2 separate regions of the Homo sapiens genome follow, and region 1 is linked to region 2. The links come from fine-mapping of genetic effects on gene expression. Tissue or cell type: lung. Region 2 holds a variant in brackets; the other region holds the start of a gene. All regions are shown on one strand. Distances are between the middles of the regions.

What was found. PIP is the estimated chance that this variant, and not a neighbour inherited with it, causes the effect.
Region 1: it holds the start of CLTB, and the variant in region 2 is fine-mapped to the expression of CLTB in lung (GTEx, PIP 0.97).

The regions. Positions count from the first base shown.
Region 1 is chr5:176,412,201-176,420,300 of GRCh38, forward strand. It overlaps CLTB (clathrin light chain B), which reads right to left and starts at 4,339. Exons shown (of 6, transcript NM_007097.5): 1 at 3,977-4,339. The coding sequence starts at 4,163. It also overlaps a transcript of ARL10 not described here. RefSeq lists silencers at 3,842-3,921, 4,032-4,131, 4,172-4,631.
Region 2 is chr5:176,524,829-176,532,928 of GRCh38, forward strand. It overlaps RNF44 (ring finger protein 44), which reads right to left. Exons shown (of 11, transcript NM_014901.5): 2 at 7,538-7,688; 3 at 7,176-7,365; 4 at 6,635-6,802; 5 at 6,020-6,193; 6 at 5,754-5,915; 7 at 5,254-5,378; 8 at 4,903-4,990; 9 at 4,695-4,816; 10 at 4,460-4,559; 11 at 1,884-4,262. The coding sequence starts at 7,644. The coding sequence ends at 4,200. Among named protein-coding and RNA genes, the nearest start is that of RNF44, 8.5 kb to the right of the region's middle. The variant G/A (reference allele first, on the strand shown) is at 3,948.

The DNA of each region.
Region 1 (8,100 bases), 110 kb before region 2:
TTTTTGGCTCCATTTATTCTCCAAGGTCCAGCTCATAAGTCACCTCCTCTGGGAAGCCCTCCTCTGCTTCCTTTACTTCCCTAGGCACTTACGGAAGGTCTCACTTCCGGGGTATCCCAGGATATCATACAGTATCCTGCACCCTCTTGTGCAATTACTCATGACCCCCAGGGTCCGTGTGTACCCCCTTACCAGGCTCCGTGTCCTATTCAGCTCCTCAGGGCTCCAGCACGGAATGGGTGAGCAGTAACTATTGGCTAAATGGAAGTTGAATTGTTGTTTTGAGGCCTGCTGTTATCTGCAAGGCTCTCAGAAACTGCTGTGCCTCCTAGCAAAAAGCCATGGAGGCCACATGAGGTTAATAGGCAGATGGACAAATAGCCCTTCACCAGCCAGACAGGGCTGTGAGCAGCGACAGTGTGTTTGGCCTGGGGACTCAAGGGAAGGGTACTTAATCCCATGGAAATAATCCCCGGGTGACATAAATCATAATTGACTTTGCTTTCAGAGTCAACCAGTGATTGATTCCAACCAACTCTGTCAGCTGTCACTCCCATTCCTTCAGATAAGGCTTCTCCTGCATGGGTGTCCTGGCCCCTAAATCACAGTGGGACCAATAGCATTTCAGTGGCAGCATCTTCTGCAAAGGGGCTTCTTCTGCTGGGGTGTCTCCTCTAGCAGGGCCTCACGTTACCAGGGTCTATTCCCTGTGATGCCGGTCTGTACATTTGGCCTTCTCGAGAATTTGCACCACCCTACTCCGCCCTGACCAACCCCAGTCTCAGACCCCACATCTACACACAGCTGCCTGGGGTCTACCCTGACCTTCAGAAAGTCTCTCTGCCTCAGCCTCGAGAGTGTTCCTCTGGACATGCAGTTTCGGCCTCCTTAAGAGTCCACACACACCTACACAGCATTCCAAGTACCTGTTCCCACAGTGCTCTCCACCCACCCACTGCCCATCTACCACCGGGAGTCCACACTCACAGGCCAGCAGAACAGGACTGAGACAGAGACACGTCCCAGGGATAAACCCCTGAGGGTTTGCTTCCCTCAGCTGCCTGACCCATTTTGGAACAAGGGCAGAGAGGGTCCAGAACATTCCTGTGAGCTTACGAGGCCCAGCGGGGGAAATGGGCTTGCCCAGAACTGACAGGCAAGTCAGAGCCAGGCCTGGTGCTCAGAAAACTGGGTGTGAAAATGGAAACCTACCCAAGGCTGATGAATGGAAACAAAGTGTCCATCATCCAGATCACCCAGGGCCACAGATCCAGCCAGAGAGGAGGGGCTCCCTGTGGCTCCAGCACAGGCCTACACCAGATACCTCTTTCCCCAGGGGCAACTGAGCCCAGTGTCAGCACAGAGATTGCTAATCTGAGGACCCCAACATCTAAGAGAAGGTGCCTCAGAGGTACTGACTGGCGGCCGCTGCTAAGCCAGCTTTTGCCCAGCTCTCAGCAGGCCAGGGCGCTTTTTCTCTGCCCCATCCAGGCTCCTGGCACACATCCCTGGTCAGGGGAAGATTACCTGTTCAGCACTGCATAGGCTGAGAAGGTCAGATCAATTCTAGCCCATCTGGCCATCCACTGAGCCGCCATCCCTCAACACCTCCCTGCTCCCCGATCCAACTAAGGAGGGCAGCTGAGCCTTTGCAGAGTCAGCAGGTATGCGCCTGGGAGACCCTCAGAAGGCTGTATCCCCGGCACCTCCCTGGAAGAAGCGAGCGTGTCATTGTTTCTCTCCCTGTCACCTCTGGTCTGAGGCCAATTTGTGCCCCACCCCTGCCAAGGACAGAACTTGCCATCCAGACTGTAAGTCCCTGGAGCCCCACCATCCTGGGAGAGGCCACAACCTGCTCAGCTCCCTCAGGCATCTGGCTGCCCTCAGCCTGAATCCCATCTTTTCTCTCCTGAGGTTCTCACAATGGCTCCCCTCAGCAGGACCTCCCCACAAGGCCTCCCTCCTCTTCCCTGCACCCCGACCCCAACAGGCCCCAGTGAGCCAGACTGAGGAAAAGGGTGGTCTCACAGAGGTGTGGTCCAGTGAATACTGGTGCATTAACTGGGGCAGGCATTTCTTAGGAATTCCCTGGGACACGGCAGATTCTGTATTGAGGTGCTGGAAGCTTCCACTTCAGAAGCCCTCCATTGCTGTCTCAGATAGGTGGCAAAAGACCCCATGCTTCTCACCCCACATCCTATCTCCTGCCAGGGAGGTGACTGCTATAGAATCTTTTTTTTTTTTTTTTTGAGACAGGGTCTCACTCTGCTGCCCAGGCTGGAGTACAGAGACGTGATCACAGCACACGGCGACCTACCTACACCTCCCGGGCTCAAGCTATGCTCCTGCCTCAGCCTTCCCGAGCAGCTGGAACTACAACTACAGCTACATGCCACCATGCCTGGCTAATTTTTGTATGTTTTGTAGAGATGGGGTTTCACCATGTTGCCCAGGCTCCACAGCATTTGAAAGAGCATGGAGCCCAGAGTTGGGAGGCGTGGGATCAAGTCCTAGATTGGTCATTCCTGGCTGTGTGACTCTGGGCAAGATACTCAGATTCTCTGGGCCACCGGTTTCTTGCATGTTACAAAAGCCTGGTTACATTTCTCATATCAAGGAGATACAGAGTTGCTTCAAACTCCTCAGCCACAGGAACTGTCTTATTCATTTCTGTATCCCCAGCGTCCTGACACACAGTAGGTGCTCAGTAAACGTTGAATGGATACAAACATGACTGTGAAGAGCCTTGTAAACATCATTAACCAAAATATGTCTATATGTATATATGTTAGCACTTACTACAACAGGCCCATAAACCTTTCCAAAATGACATCAACAGGAAGTAAAACCTGTTTTGGATGTACCCATGAAGGTGATATCTACTTTTTTACTAAATATTTTACAAAATCATTCTTGCTAGCCAGAACCAGGGCAGAAACATCATTGATAAAGATGATTTCACAGGGACTAGGCCCTGAACACTGAGGTCTGAAGCCAATCACAGTAAATCATAATAGCCCCGGACCACCTTTGGAAAACCATTAAGTCGACAACTACAAAACCCTGAAGGGCCCTACCGCATCTGACTGATGCCTCTTTGTGGCCCACACTCCGGTGTCTAACTCAGAGCCAGACACTTGGTAGGCAGTGTGGTCAGGTGGAGAGGGCTTCAAGTCCGACAGGAACAGGTTTAAATTCACGGCCAGGTGTGGTGACTCACACCTGTAATCCCAACACTTTAGGAGGCAGAGGTGGGAGGATTGCTTGAGCCCAGGAGCTCAAGACCAGTCTGGGCAACATAGCGAGACCCCATCTCAAAAAAAGGAAAAGAAAAAATATATATGTAAAAGAAAAAGAAACAGGTTTAAATTCTTGATCTGCCACTTACTAGTTATTTCAATAGCATACTCCCTTGAGCCTCAGTTTTACCATCTCTGAAATGGGTTCAATCACGTGTATGAAGTGATTAAATGTAACCAAGGCGCTTAGCCCAGCGACTGCCGAATGCCAGGCGGTCACCGGGGAAGGTTAGTGAGTTCCTGGAGCACCCAGGATCCTCTTTTTTCCCAGCTGCAGGAGAGAGCTAAGCCTGAGGGGCCAGGAGGGCTGTGTTCTGCCCACACCTGCACACTTAGCTGGGAGCCTGGGACACCCAGGCTATTAGGAGGCTCAGGAGGGACTCTCAAAACTGAGGTGGGGTTGGATTCCAGAGCCGGGCAGTGGGGAAGCTGGCCTGGGGATGAAATGTCATGACCGAATTCCTGTCCCGGGAGTCACCAGATCCACAGCCCCAGGCGAGGCCTCATCCCCAGCTCGGAAGTCCTACATGGAGATCTCCAAGAAGATTCTTCCCCACGTCTCCCAGCTCCTGCCCCGGGTGGCCTAGAGCAGGCTCTCTTCCCTGTGCCCCTGGGCCCCGGCCGGGGTCCCCCGGGTGCGCGCCCTGAGCCCCTCTCCAGGCCCCGCGCTGACTCACCCCCACTCGTGGGGCCCGGCTGCGCGGGGGCCGCATGGCTGCCGGCAGGTGCCCCGAAGCCCTCGTCGTTCTCTATGCCTGCAATCTCGCTCTCCTGCTGGGCCAGGAAGGCGGCCGCCGGGTCCTCCTCCGCCGCCTCCGGGGCACCGCTCTCCGACGACGAGAAGAAGCCAAAGTCATCAGCCATTTTCCCCGCGCCTCCGCCGGAGCCTCCGCTGCGCTCGGCTCTGCCCGCGCCTGCCCCGCGCTGCGTCCGGCGGCCGCGACGCTGTCACCCGAGCCGCGGGGGAGCCGGCGTCGGCGGGGACGGGCTTGGCGCGGACCGCACTTCCTCTCCGCCACCGGGCCCGGCTGGCTGTCACTGCGGTGCGGGCGCCGCGGCGGGAGGAGCGGAGCCGGAATGCGGTGACGTCACCGCGGGGGCGGGGCCGCAGGGCCGGGAGGTCGCCGAGCAGCGGCCGCAGGAGGGCGCCTCAGGACTGGGCGCAGCGCTGGGCCCGGGACCGGCGCGGCGCTTCCCTCCCTCCGCAGCGGCGCCCAGCTGCTCGCGTCGAGGACACCTGGGCTAGGCACTGCTCCCGCCCGGCCTGGAGGCGAAACGCAGGGCACAGAGTGGCCGTACCGTGCACAGAGCTGCGACAGGAGGCCACCTCTGGCCTCGGGAGCGCAGACCTGGCTCCTGATTCATTCTGCAGAAGTTTCTTCTCCTAGGTTGGGATGTCATGCACCTCATTCTATGAGCCTCCGCCTCTGTAAGAAGAGGAAAATTGAGGCTGGGAAAGGCTGCCCCGCACCTTTTCATGCAAGTCCAGGTCCTTTCCCACTAGGCCGTGTTGTTTTGTGTATTTTTTTGTGTATCTCCCTTGAGGAGGCTTCAGTTCATACGACCAGAGTTTGGATGGCCAGCTAGGCCCCTTAAATGTCCTTTAGGTATGAACCAGCCTGAGAAAGGCAGACCTGGTTTACCCAGGCAGCCTACCACTCTCCACGCTGCCCGCTGCCCTCTGTGAACAGGCTCTGAATGCCTCCTCCCTGCCTGCGCTTTGCCAAGCACCAGGACAGCAACGTTTTATAAAATCCAGCCATGGCCATGCGGAGATTACAATCCGGTGAGACCAACAGATGGCAAATGGCCTGTCAAAGCACTGTGTGTGAGGCGCTGTGACATTTAAACACGGGGTATAGGGAGACGATGCAAAGAAACACCATGGGATTTGGGCTGTCTGCTATTTCTAATGTGGGACTTGAAAGGCAACTATGAAATATGGACTGGAAGAGCGAAAGGAAAGATGTGCCGCCAAGTTGGGGGTGGAAGTGGAGTTGGGGTGAAGGGACCTTCCAGGTGTTTTTTTTTTTTTCTTTTTAATTTTTTTATTTAGAGACAGGGCCTCGCTATATTAACTGGGCTGGTCTTGAACTGCTGGCCTCAGGGGATCCTCCTGCCTTGGTCTCCCAAAACACTGGGATTACATGTGTGAGCTACCAAGCCCAGCTGGAACTTTCAGTTTAATTGGTAACAACTTGAGCACCTTTTGATGTTACTGTTTTTGGGGGGGTTTTTATTGTTTTATTTAATTAAATTAATGTATTTATTTATTGCTGTCCATTTGCATGGTTTTGTTGTTGTTGTTTGTTTGTTTTTTGTTTTGAGACAGGATCTTACTCTTGCCCAGGCTAGAGTGTAGTGGTACGATTATAGTTCACTACAGCTTCAACTCCTGGGCTCAAGTGATCCTCTCATCCTCAGACTTCCAAAGAGCTGGGATTACAGGCATGAGCCAACACACCTGGCCTTTTTGATGTTATTGTAAGTGGAAGTTTTATCTTCTTTTTTGATTGCGTATTGTTAATGCATAGAAATTTAACTGATTTTTGTGCATTGGCTTTGTATCCTGCTGCTTTGCTGAATTCATTTATTAGCTCTAACATTTTTTGTGTGTGGAATATTTAGGGTTTTCTGCAGATAAGAGCTTATTAGCCAGGTGCCATGGCTCATACCTGTAATCCCAGCACTTTGGGAGGTGGAAGTGGGTGGATAGATTGAGCCCAGGAGTTTGAGACCAGTCTGGACAACGTGGCAAAACCCCATCACTACTAAAACTACAAAAAATTAGCCAGACATGGTGGTATGGTGCCCGTAGTCCCAGTTACTCAGGAGGCCGAGGTGAGGGAATCACCTGAGCCCGGGAAGTCAAGGTTGCAGTGAGCTATGATTGTGTCAGAGGTGTGTGAATCAGAGCAAGTCCGTCGTAAACAGGATCTGGGTAAAATGAGGCTGAAACCTACTGGGCTGCATTCCCAGACGGTTAGGGCATTCTAAATCACAGGATGAGATAGGAGGTCAGCACAAAATACAAGTCATAAAGACCTTGCTGATAACACAGTTTGCAGTGTTGGGCAAGGTGGCCCACGCCTGTAATCCCAGCACTTTGGGAGGCCAAGGTGGGCGGATTGTGAGGTCAGGAGTTTGCGACCAGCCTGGTCAATATAGTGAAACCCCGTCTCTACTAAAAATACAAAAAATTAGCTGGGCATGGTGGCAGGTGCCTGTAATCCCAGCTACTTGGGAGGCTGAGGCAGGAGAATTGCTTGAACCCGGGAGGCGGAGGTTACAGTGAGCCGAGATCTCACCACTGCACTCCAGCCTGGGTGACAGTGCAAGACTCAGTCTCAAAAAACAAACAAACCAACAAACAACAACAACAAAAACCAGGTTGCAGTAAAGGAGCCAGCCAAAACCCACCAAAACCAAAATGGTGACAAGAGTGACCTCTGGTCATCCTCACTCCCACCAGTGCCAGGACAGTTTACAAATGCCATGGCAACATCAGGAAGTTACCCTATACGGTCTAAAAAGGGAAGGCACGAATAATCCACCCCTTGTTTAGCATTTCATCAAGAAATGGCCATGAAAATATGCAACCAGCAGTCCTTGGGGCTGCTCTGTCTATGGAGTAGCCATTCTTCTATTCCTTTACTTTCTTTTTCTTTTTTTGAGGTGGAGTCTCGCTCTGTTGCCCAGGCTGGAGTGCAGTGGTGCGATCTCGGCTCACTGCAAGCTCCACCTCCCGGGTTCACGCCATTCTCCTGCCTCAGCCTCCCAAGTAGCTGGGACTACAGGAGCCTGCCACCATGCTCAGCTAATTTTTTTTTTTTTTGTATTTTTAGTAGAGACGGGGTTTCACCCTGTTAGCCAGGATGGTCTCGATCTCTTGACTTCATGATCTGTCCACCTCGGCCTGCCAAAGTGCTGGGATTACAGGCGTGAGCCACCGTGCCCGGCCCCTCCTTTACTTTCTTAATAAACTTGTTTTCGCTTTGCACCAAGGACTCACCCTGAATTCTTTCTTGCGTGAGATCCAAGAACCCTCTCTTGGGGTCTGGATTGGGACCCCTGTCCTATAACAATCACACCACTGCGCTCCAGCCTGGGCAATGAGAGTGAGACCCTGTCTCTAAATAAATAAATAGCATCTGCAAACAGAGATACTTCTTACTTTCCAATCTGGGTTGCTTTTATTTCTTTTTCTTGCCTAATTTCTCTGGCTAGGACTTCCAGTACTATGTTGAATAGAAATACCAAAAGTGGGCATCCTTCTGCACAAGTTGTCCAAATCAAACTGGAGTCACTTATGCCAAACCCTAGCAAAATGGACTCAGGAGGCCATAAATGAGGGGCTCCCATGCACACATGCCTATGATAGAAAATATTACAAGGACTGTCTGAGGCTGGGCACGGTGGCTCATGCCTGTAATCCCAACACTTTGGGATGCTGAGATGGGCGGATCACCTGAGGTCTGGAGTTCAAGACCAACCTAACATGATGAAACCCCGTCTCTACTAAAAATACAAAATTAGCTGGGTGTGGTGGCACACACCTGTAATCCCAGCTACTCAGGAGGCTAAGGCAGAAGAATTGCTTGAACCTGGGAGGCAGAGGTTGCAGTGAGCCGAGATTGCCCCATTGTACTCCAGCCTGGGCAACAAGAGCAAAACTCCGTCTCAAGAAAAAAAAAAAAACCCAACAACAACAACAACAAAAAACAAGGATTGTCTGAAACCACAATCTTGCACAAAGGCCGTCACACCCATGCACGAAGAATATTTCTGCAATGACACCTGC
Region 2 (8,100 bases):
AAGGTGGGCGGATCACCTGAGGTCAGGAGATCAAGACCATCCTGGCCAACATGGTGAAAACCCGCCTCTACTAAAAATACAAAAATTAGCTGGGCGTGGTGGCGTGTGCCTGTAATCCCAGCTACTTGGGAGGCTGAGGCACAAGAATCACTTGAACCCAGGAGGCGGAGGTTGCAGTGAGCTGAGATCACGCCACTGCACTCCGGCCTGGTGACAGAGCCAGACTCCGTCTCAAAAAAAAAACAAAAAAACAACAAACAAACAAAAATTAGCTGGGCGTAGTGGTGCGTGCCTGTAGTCCCAGCTACTCGGGCTGAGGCAGGAGACTCACTTGAACCCGGGTGGCGGAGGTTGCAGTGAGCTGAGATCGCGCCATTGCCCTACAGCCTGGGCGACAGAGCGAGAGTCCATCTCAAACAAACAAACAAGAACAACAACAACAAACCAAAGTGTTGGCATTACAGGCTCGAGCCACGGTGCCCAGCCTAGGCATGTCTGCATCTTAAAAAACAAACAACCACCCTTGCTGAGATTTTGATAGAAATTGCATTAAACCTACAGATTGATCTGCGAAGAAATGCCACCTTTACTATGTTGAATATTCCAATCCAAGTACACGGTTTGTTTCCATTTATGTAGGTCTGATTTCTTTCATTACAGTTTTGTAGTTTTCAGCATGCAAGTCTTGCACGTTTTGTTAGATTTAGTCCTAAGTATTTCATTTTTCTTTGAGCCATTAGAAATGTTATCATTGTGTTTTAAGCTGGGCGCGGTGGCTCACGCAGGTAATCCCAGCACTTTGGAAGGCTGAGGCAGGCAGATCACTTAAGTTCAGGAGTTCAAGACTAGCCTGGGAAACAACATGAGACCCCGTCTCTACAAAAAAATACAAAAACTTAGCAGGCCATGGTGGCACACGCCTCAGGTGATGCTAAATTAGAGGAGACTGAGCAAGGGCTACCAAGCGCTGCCGCGCAGAGAAAAGCAAGGTTGCAGGCTGGACGCGGTGGCTCACACCTGCAATCCCAGCACTTTGGGAGGCCAAGGTGGGAGGACTGCTTGAGCCCAAGAGTTCGAGACCAGCCTGGGCAGCATAGTGAGACTTGTTCCTATTGGAAAAACAAAACAAGTTGTGAAATGAGGGAGACCTTATTTCCTCATGACAGGCCTGAGCCCCCTGATCCAGTCAGGACAGAAGAACCTACCTTGAGATTCATTTTTATTTTTTGAGACACAGTCCGCTGTCACCTAGGCTGGAGTGCAGTGGTGCAATCTTGGCTCACTGCAACCTCCACCTCCTGGATTCAAGCAATTCTCCTACCTCAGCCTCCCGAGTAGCTGGGACTACAGGCTTGTGCCACCATACCTGGCTAATTTTTTTTTTTTTAGACGGAGTCTTGCTCTGTCACCCAGGCTGGAGTGCAGCGGCACGATCTTGGCTCACTGCAAGCTCCGCCTCCCAGGTTCACGCCATTCTCCTGCCTCAACCTCCCGAGTAGCTGGGACTACAGGTGCCCGCCACCACGCCCGGCTAATTTTTTTTTGTATTTTTAGTAGAGACAAGGTTTCACCGTGTTAGCCAGAACGGTCTCAATCTCCTGACCTCATGATCCGCCCACCTCAGCCTCCCAAAGTGCTGGGATTACAGGCATGAGCCACCGGCTGGGATTACATGCATGAGCCACTACGCCCGGCCTAATTTTTCTGTGTTTTTAGTAGAGAAGGGGTTTCACCATGTTGGGCAGGCTGGTATCGAACACCTCACCTTAAGTGATCCACCAGCCTCGGCCTCCCAAAGTGCTGGGATTACAGGTGTTAAGCCTCATCCCCATCCCACCTCCCACCAAAAAGACACGGGCAGCCAAAGGCAGCGTGGGCGGTCGTTGGTATACATCATACATTTATTAGTGAATATCCCTCTGAAATCAGCAACAATATTAAAAAAAATAATGATTGCACTACTTGGTCAAGCAGAACTAGCAACTTTCATTTTAAAAAAAGTACAAATCTGTTAAAAATTTCAATCAGTATACACATATATATAATACAACATACTAGTTATGTTAAATGCTACAAACCAATGTGAATCCCATGGAATGGAAAAAACCACACATTTAAGCTTTAAGAACCATTTTTTTCTCTATATATTAGCATTTTCTCAAATACATACATGGGAAAAATGAGGTAACTGTAAAATGTGCAAGGAACAGGGCCCCCAAAATTACATATATTTCTACATATATATGTAATTTTATATATATATAAAACCTTTCTAACACAGAACACAGGCGCTGGGCCCAGCCAGGGCTGGGGGAAGGTGCCCACTGTCATGCCTAGGCCAGAAGTTGGTAAATAAGAGAGTAAACAATGGCAAGCCCCCACCACAGGAAATCATTGGTAACATGGCATCTATAGCAAGGTCGGCAGATCACAAACATCCTAAGTAATTGTTGTATAAATCTTGTTTTTTAATGATGATCTTTTTAAATGCTGTGTTTCCCCCCCAATAGCTGCTTGTTGGAATCACTGCTGCAGCCGACACACAATCTGTGAGCCTGTTTCCGCCTGCCCCAGGAACTGTAAGGGGTTTGAAAACGTTTTGTTGGGGTCGGGAAGGGAGGGGTTGGAGAGGGTGGTTCTGTGTAAAACACGTGGGTTTTCAACACTGCTATAAATATAGAAACGTCACCTGGAGTTATATACAGTAAGACTTTGGGTTCTCCATGGGGGTGGGACCAGGCTGACGGGCCCCACGGCAGGCTGGGGCGGGAGGTGGGAGCCAGGGCCACTGCGAGGAGAACGAGGGTGGTTGGAGCATCCCTGAGGCAGCAGGCGCCAGGGGCTGCCTGCTAGGATGTGCCGGCCCCACACGCAGTTCGTTCAGGGCAGCAACCCCAGCTGGGTATAGGACAAGAAAGGATTGGGACCAGGGAAAGTGGGTGGGAAGCTCAGCCAGACCCTACAGCGGCCTCCTCCAGAACTTGGAGGACAGGGATCAGGCTGGGAAGGCCCCCTGGAGATGGGGGTCCACAGCCTTCCTGGTCCCCATCCTCCTGGGACTTCCTTGGAGGAGATTCGCCCAGGCAGGTGGGAGTTGGGCCCTGGCTGGAGGGAGAAATGCCCTGAAAAGCGTCGGGTCCCGGTAGGCTCTAGGGACGTGTGCAGTACAGTGCATGGCAGTTATCAGCTGAGCACAGACCCCCAACCCTGCCCCACGACCGCCGGCCGCCCAGCCCAGCCCGGCACACGCATGCATGCAGGCCGGCCAGCATGACCGTGCTCGGCCCCCTGGGCACTCGGTCCCAGTTGGTCCCTATACCCGCCCCTATTAAACCAAAAGAAAAAAGAAATTGTCTTAAATATCCACATCCCCAAATCCTACACGTGATTTTGGGCCAAATGAATGAACAAAAACTGCTGCTCCTCACGTTCATGCAAAACAACAGAGGGAGAGGAGATTGGGCACGGGTCTGGCTGCATCCCTGGGAGGGACAACCACCGGGAACACAGGGCTCCCTCTCCCCGTATGGCCCAAGCCCCTCAGGATACGTGTGCCCCAGCTCGGGATTAGGCTGGGACGCCCTCCAGCCTGAGGGTGGGGCTGGAATGTTGTTCCTGGGATGAGGGTCCCCTAGGGAACCAGACTCAGCCCTCACAGCAGCCAACACAGAGCCAGCTGCCTGAGTTCACTGTTCGGGGTCAAGGAGGGGGGATTCAGCCCTGGGGCTCAGGAAATGGCTCGTGACACCGTCTGTCTACGCACCTGGCAGTGCCACCTGGGCAGAGGGCACGCCATTTCAGAGCATGAGACCTTCTGACCCAGGATGGTGCTCTGTCTGCCCATCCTGGGGCCAAGGATCTCCACCGGCCCCACTGAGGGAGCGGACCCCTGGCACTCAGTGCCAGCAGGAAAAGGAGGGACCTGAGGGTGCACAGGAGGGAGACCC[G/A]ATCAGGGACACTCAGGCAGCTCCGTGGCGGGCGGGCAGGCAGGCAGACTAGGGAGGGAGTCTTTGGAGCTTGGCAAATGCAGGGGCTTATTGCAGGGACTCCTCGCTGGGCTGACCCTGGCACCAGCTCTGGAAATGCAGGCAGGAGCGAAGGGGCAGGCCTGGGCCACTCCCTCCCCATCCTCCCTGGGCCCCACCCACAAGTTTCCAGAGCTTCAGGCAGGGTTCTCCCGGGCAGGCGGCTGCGTGGCCTCACTCAGCCTCCCTGGGCACCTCGGAGGCGTCGGCCCGGCAGATGGGACACGTCCGGTTGGCCTGTGGGAACATGCACGTCAGGCGTTGCTCTCACCAGCCCCAACCCACCACATCTGTGCAGCCACCTGGGGGGACTTGGTCCGCTGGAGCCAGAACTTCCGAGATGATGACAAGGACAAGGAGGGAAACAGCCCAGGCCAGCCCATCCCCCCGTCACTGCATGAGGAATACCCAGGAGCAGACCTGGGCAGTGTTACCTTCAACCACTTGTCAACACACTTGGTGTGGAACTCATGGTTGCAGGGGAGGACTCGGAGCAGCTGCCGCGCCTCGAAGTCACTGAAGCAGACCACACACCTGTGGAGGGGCGCGGAGCGTCACCTCCACGCTGAGGGCCATGGGAAGGCTCAGTGGAGTGTGACTCCCCTGAGAGGGGCGTCCCACGGCAGCCAGCTGTGTTCAGAGGGGTGGGAGGTGGGGCAGGGTACTCACAGCGTCTGCTCCGACTGATGGCTGTCCGGGTTAAAGCGGTACGACGGGAGCTGCTCTATGTCTGCTTTGGTGAGACCCCGGGGCTTGGCATCTCCCAGCCGCTCGGCCAGGTTCAGGAGGGCCTGCATGCGGGCAGGAGACGGGGTCAGCGGCGCCCAGGGCTGCAGGTCTCCCAAACCCCACCTCCCAGCATGGGGCTCCATGGGACCTCATAGTTCTCCATCTCCACATCATCCACGTCCAGGTCCAGGCTGATGGTGGGCCCCATTGCTGTTGGTGACATTGGCAGCATCGAGCTAGAGAGAGACAAGTGTGGGGGCCCAGGGTCAAGGTCAGGAGTGGGGCACACAGAGCCGCTCTCCTGACTCCCTCCTTGCAAACAGAGCCCAGAACGTTGCAGCGGGGAAGGGAGCCCAGCTGGCGTGCCTGTCAGGTTAAGGGGGGAACGCCAGGTGGCTTCAGAGGCCCTGGGGCCCCTGGAGCTGTGTTTAGGTCTAACCACTGGAGGTTCCAGGAGAACAGGGCATCAGGGACCTGGGGCGGATGTGCGGATACTTACAGGAAGTAGGGCAGGAAGCTGGGGTAGTAGGGTGGTGGGGGTGGGGGTGGGGGCGGCGGGGGCAGTGGCTGCTGCAGGCGGTATCTCTGGGTGCTCAGTCTCCGTGGCATCATGTGAGAATATGGCTGCAAGAGGGGCCAGGTGCAGGTCAGCCCAGCAGGCCTGCCTCCCAGCCGCCCCGGAGCCCAGGTGCAAGTCAGCCCGGTGGGCCTGCCTCCCAGCCGCCCCGGAGCCCAGGTGCAAGTCAGCCCGGTGGGCCTGCCTCCCAGCCGCCCCGGAGCCCACGTGCAAGTCAGCCCGGTGGGCCTGCCTCCCAGCCGCCCCGGAGCCCAGGTGCAAGTCAGCCCAGCAGGCCTGCCTCCCAGCCGCCCCGGAGCCCACGTGCAAGTCAGCCCGGTGGGCCTGCCTCCCAGCTGCCTGGGAGCCCAGATGCAGGTCGGCCCAGCGGGTCTGCCTCCCAGCTGCCCTGGAGCCCAGGTGGGGGTCGGGGTGGCACTCACCACACCAAAGGACAGCTCCTGGTGCAGCGGATCGTGGGGCAGGTAGTGCAGGGGCACCGACGGGGAAAGGGCTGGGCCAGGCGCAGAGGTGGAGTAGGTGAAGCTGCCCAGGGAGGGCTGGTCCCCACGCAGGTCCACGTCGTTGTCGAGCCGCTGGAGGGGCTGGAAGAACCAGCGCCGGGTCAGCAAGTCAGTGAGACGAGGCTGTCCTCACCCTGCCTCCCCCCACGCCATCTCCCTCCAGCATCGGACCCATGCCGACTCACCATCCGAGGGTGCTGGGTCTGCAGAGACACAAACTGCCCCAGGGGCGCCATGTGGGTGGGCTGGGGGGGTGGGGCCGGTGGTGGGGGGTGCAGGATGTAGTGGTCACTGGAGATGAGGTGGGGGTAGGCCTGATAGGGCACAGGCAGCTGCTGCATGGTGCACGCCTGGATAAGCTGCCAAGAGAGGGGGCAGGGGGCTGAGAACGTTCTCCTGGGCTCTGGGCCAGGTCTACGCCATGCCACCCAGCAAAAGGCCCCCACCGGGCACACACCCAGCAGCTCCAGGGTCTGTATAAGAAACCCTGTGGAAGGCCCATCCCTGTCCTAGGCCACCCAGGCAGGACACTCCACTGTTAAGGCCCACAGCCTCAACTCCTGGGCCTCTGCCAAGCTGTGAGGCAGGTACAGGGGTACTGGAAGGTTCCTGAACCTTGAAACACTCTATTACCAAATGTGAACACGCGTATGCTTTCCTGGGGAGGCCAGGCAGGCGCTCTGACAGCCTGGATGGCTGGATAGCTCAGCCCAGTTCAGGGCTGCCCTGGGCCCGCTGAGCCGCTGGCCTGTGCCTGGGGCTTGCAGCTGGTGGAGGAGGAGCTAGAAACACTCACTCACCGGGGGCGGGAGGCAGCAGAGGGGGTAATGCTGCCCACTGAACATCACGGAGCATGCTGGGAGCTGCTGGGCACTGCAGCCAGGGATGTGCTGGCCTGTAGGCAAGGGGAAGCCTTGGGTCGTCACTGTGGTGACCGTGTAGGACAGAGGGACAGGTCCCTGGTGCACCTGTGGGTGGAGAGAACGCCGGGAAAGTATGAAAAGGAAGCTGACCGCGAGGGCTACTCTCAGGAGAAATCATCCTGCCACATCCAGCTGCCGGCTCCCTTCCCTTCTCCACGGCGGCCTACCTCAGTGCAGACCAGACTGTGCCTCTACTCCCAGGCCCCCGGGGCAGAGAAAGCCCCGTGGGAATCTAGCTCTGCTAGTCACCCAGTGTGGCCCTTTCCCCGGGCCTCAGTTTACCTACCTGTAAAGCAGGGCCAATAATGCCTCCCTGGAACGTGAAATGAAGCAAGCTAGGTGAAATCTAGGCCTTGCTGCCTCTGCCTCTCAGACTGGCTCACAGGGCCAGGGGCACAGGGGATGGGGTTCTGCCTACCTGCTCGTGGAGATCAACCATGAACGGGCTCTGCTGGGTGGCTGGGTGCAGCATTCGGGGGCTCCCGCCGGCAGGAGCCGAGGCTCGGCGCTCCTCTACGGGGAGGTGTGGAGGTCGGGACGGCGGCTGCTGGGAGGGTAAGCGCTCATCCCGGGCAGGCGGGCTGGCCAGGGGGCCCTCGAGGCCAGGGCTGCACCACAGAGAGGAGGCCCCGATAGGACTGAGGGGGGCCACTCGTGCACAGAGCAGGGAGAGAAGCCAGGGTGACTCCCCCCATGGGGAGGGAAGGCAGCTCAGGGCCCTGCGCCCCACCCCTGCTGGCCCCCATGCCCCAGCACCAGGACTGGGAGGCTCCTTCCTACCTTCCCCAGAGCTGGCCCGGGGTGCTGCCAGGTCCCGCAGAGAATCGCCGCTGGCCCACGGGGGCGGAGGGTGGCCACCTAGTCACTGCCAGAGCCCATGGTCGCATCGGGGGGGCAGGGGGGTGGAGGGGCTGGGCCGGGACTCACAACCCTAGGAGGCAAGGAGACAAGAAGACTGAGGCACCTGGCCAACATGGTGAAACCTCGTCTCTGCTAAAAATACAAAAACTAGCCAGGCATGGTGGTGGACACCTGTAATCCCAGCTACTTGGGAGGCTGAGGCATGAGAATCGCTTGAACCCGGGAGGCGGAGGTTGCAGTGAGCTGAGCTGAGATCGCACCACTGCACTCTAGTCTGGTGACAGAGCGAGACTCCCGTCTCAAAAAAAAAAAAAAAAAAAGAAAGAAACTGAGGCACAGAGAAGTCCAGGCGCTTGTGCCATGAGGGGTCAGGAGACAGAACCAAACCTCTGCAGTGTGACCCCAGGGACCAATGGTGTTCAGCCGTGCCCCTCCTCCGAGCCCTGGGGTCCAGTGCTGACACGCCAGGACAGCTCAGCCTG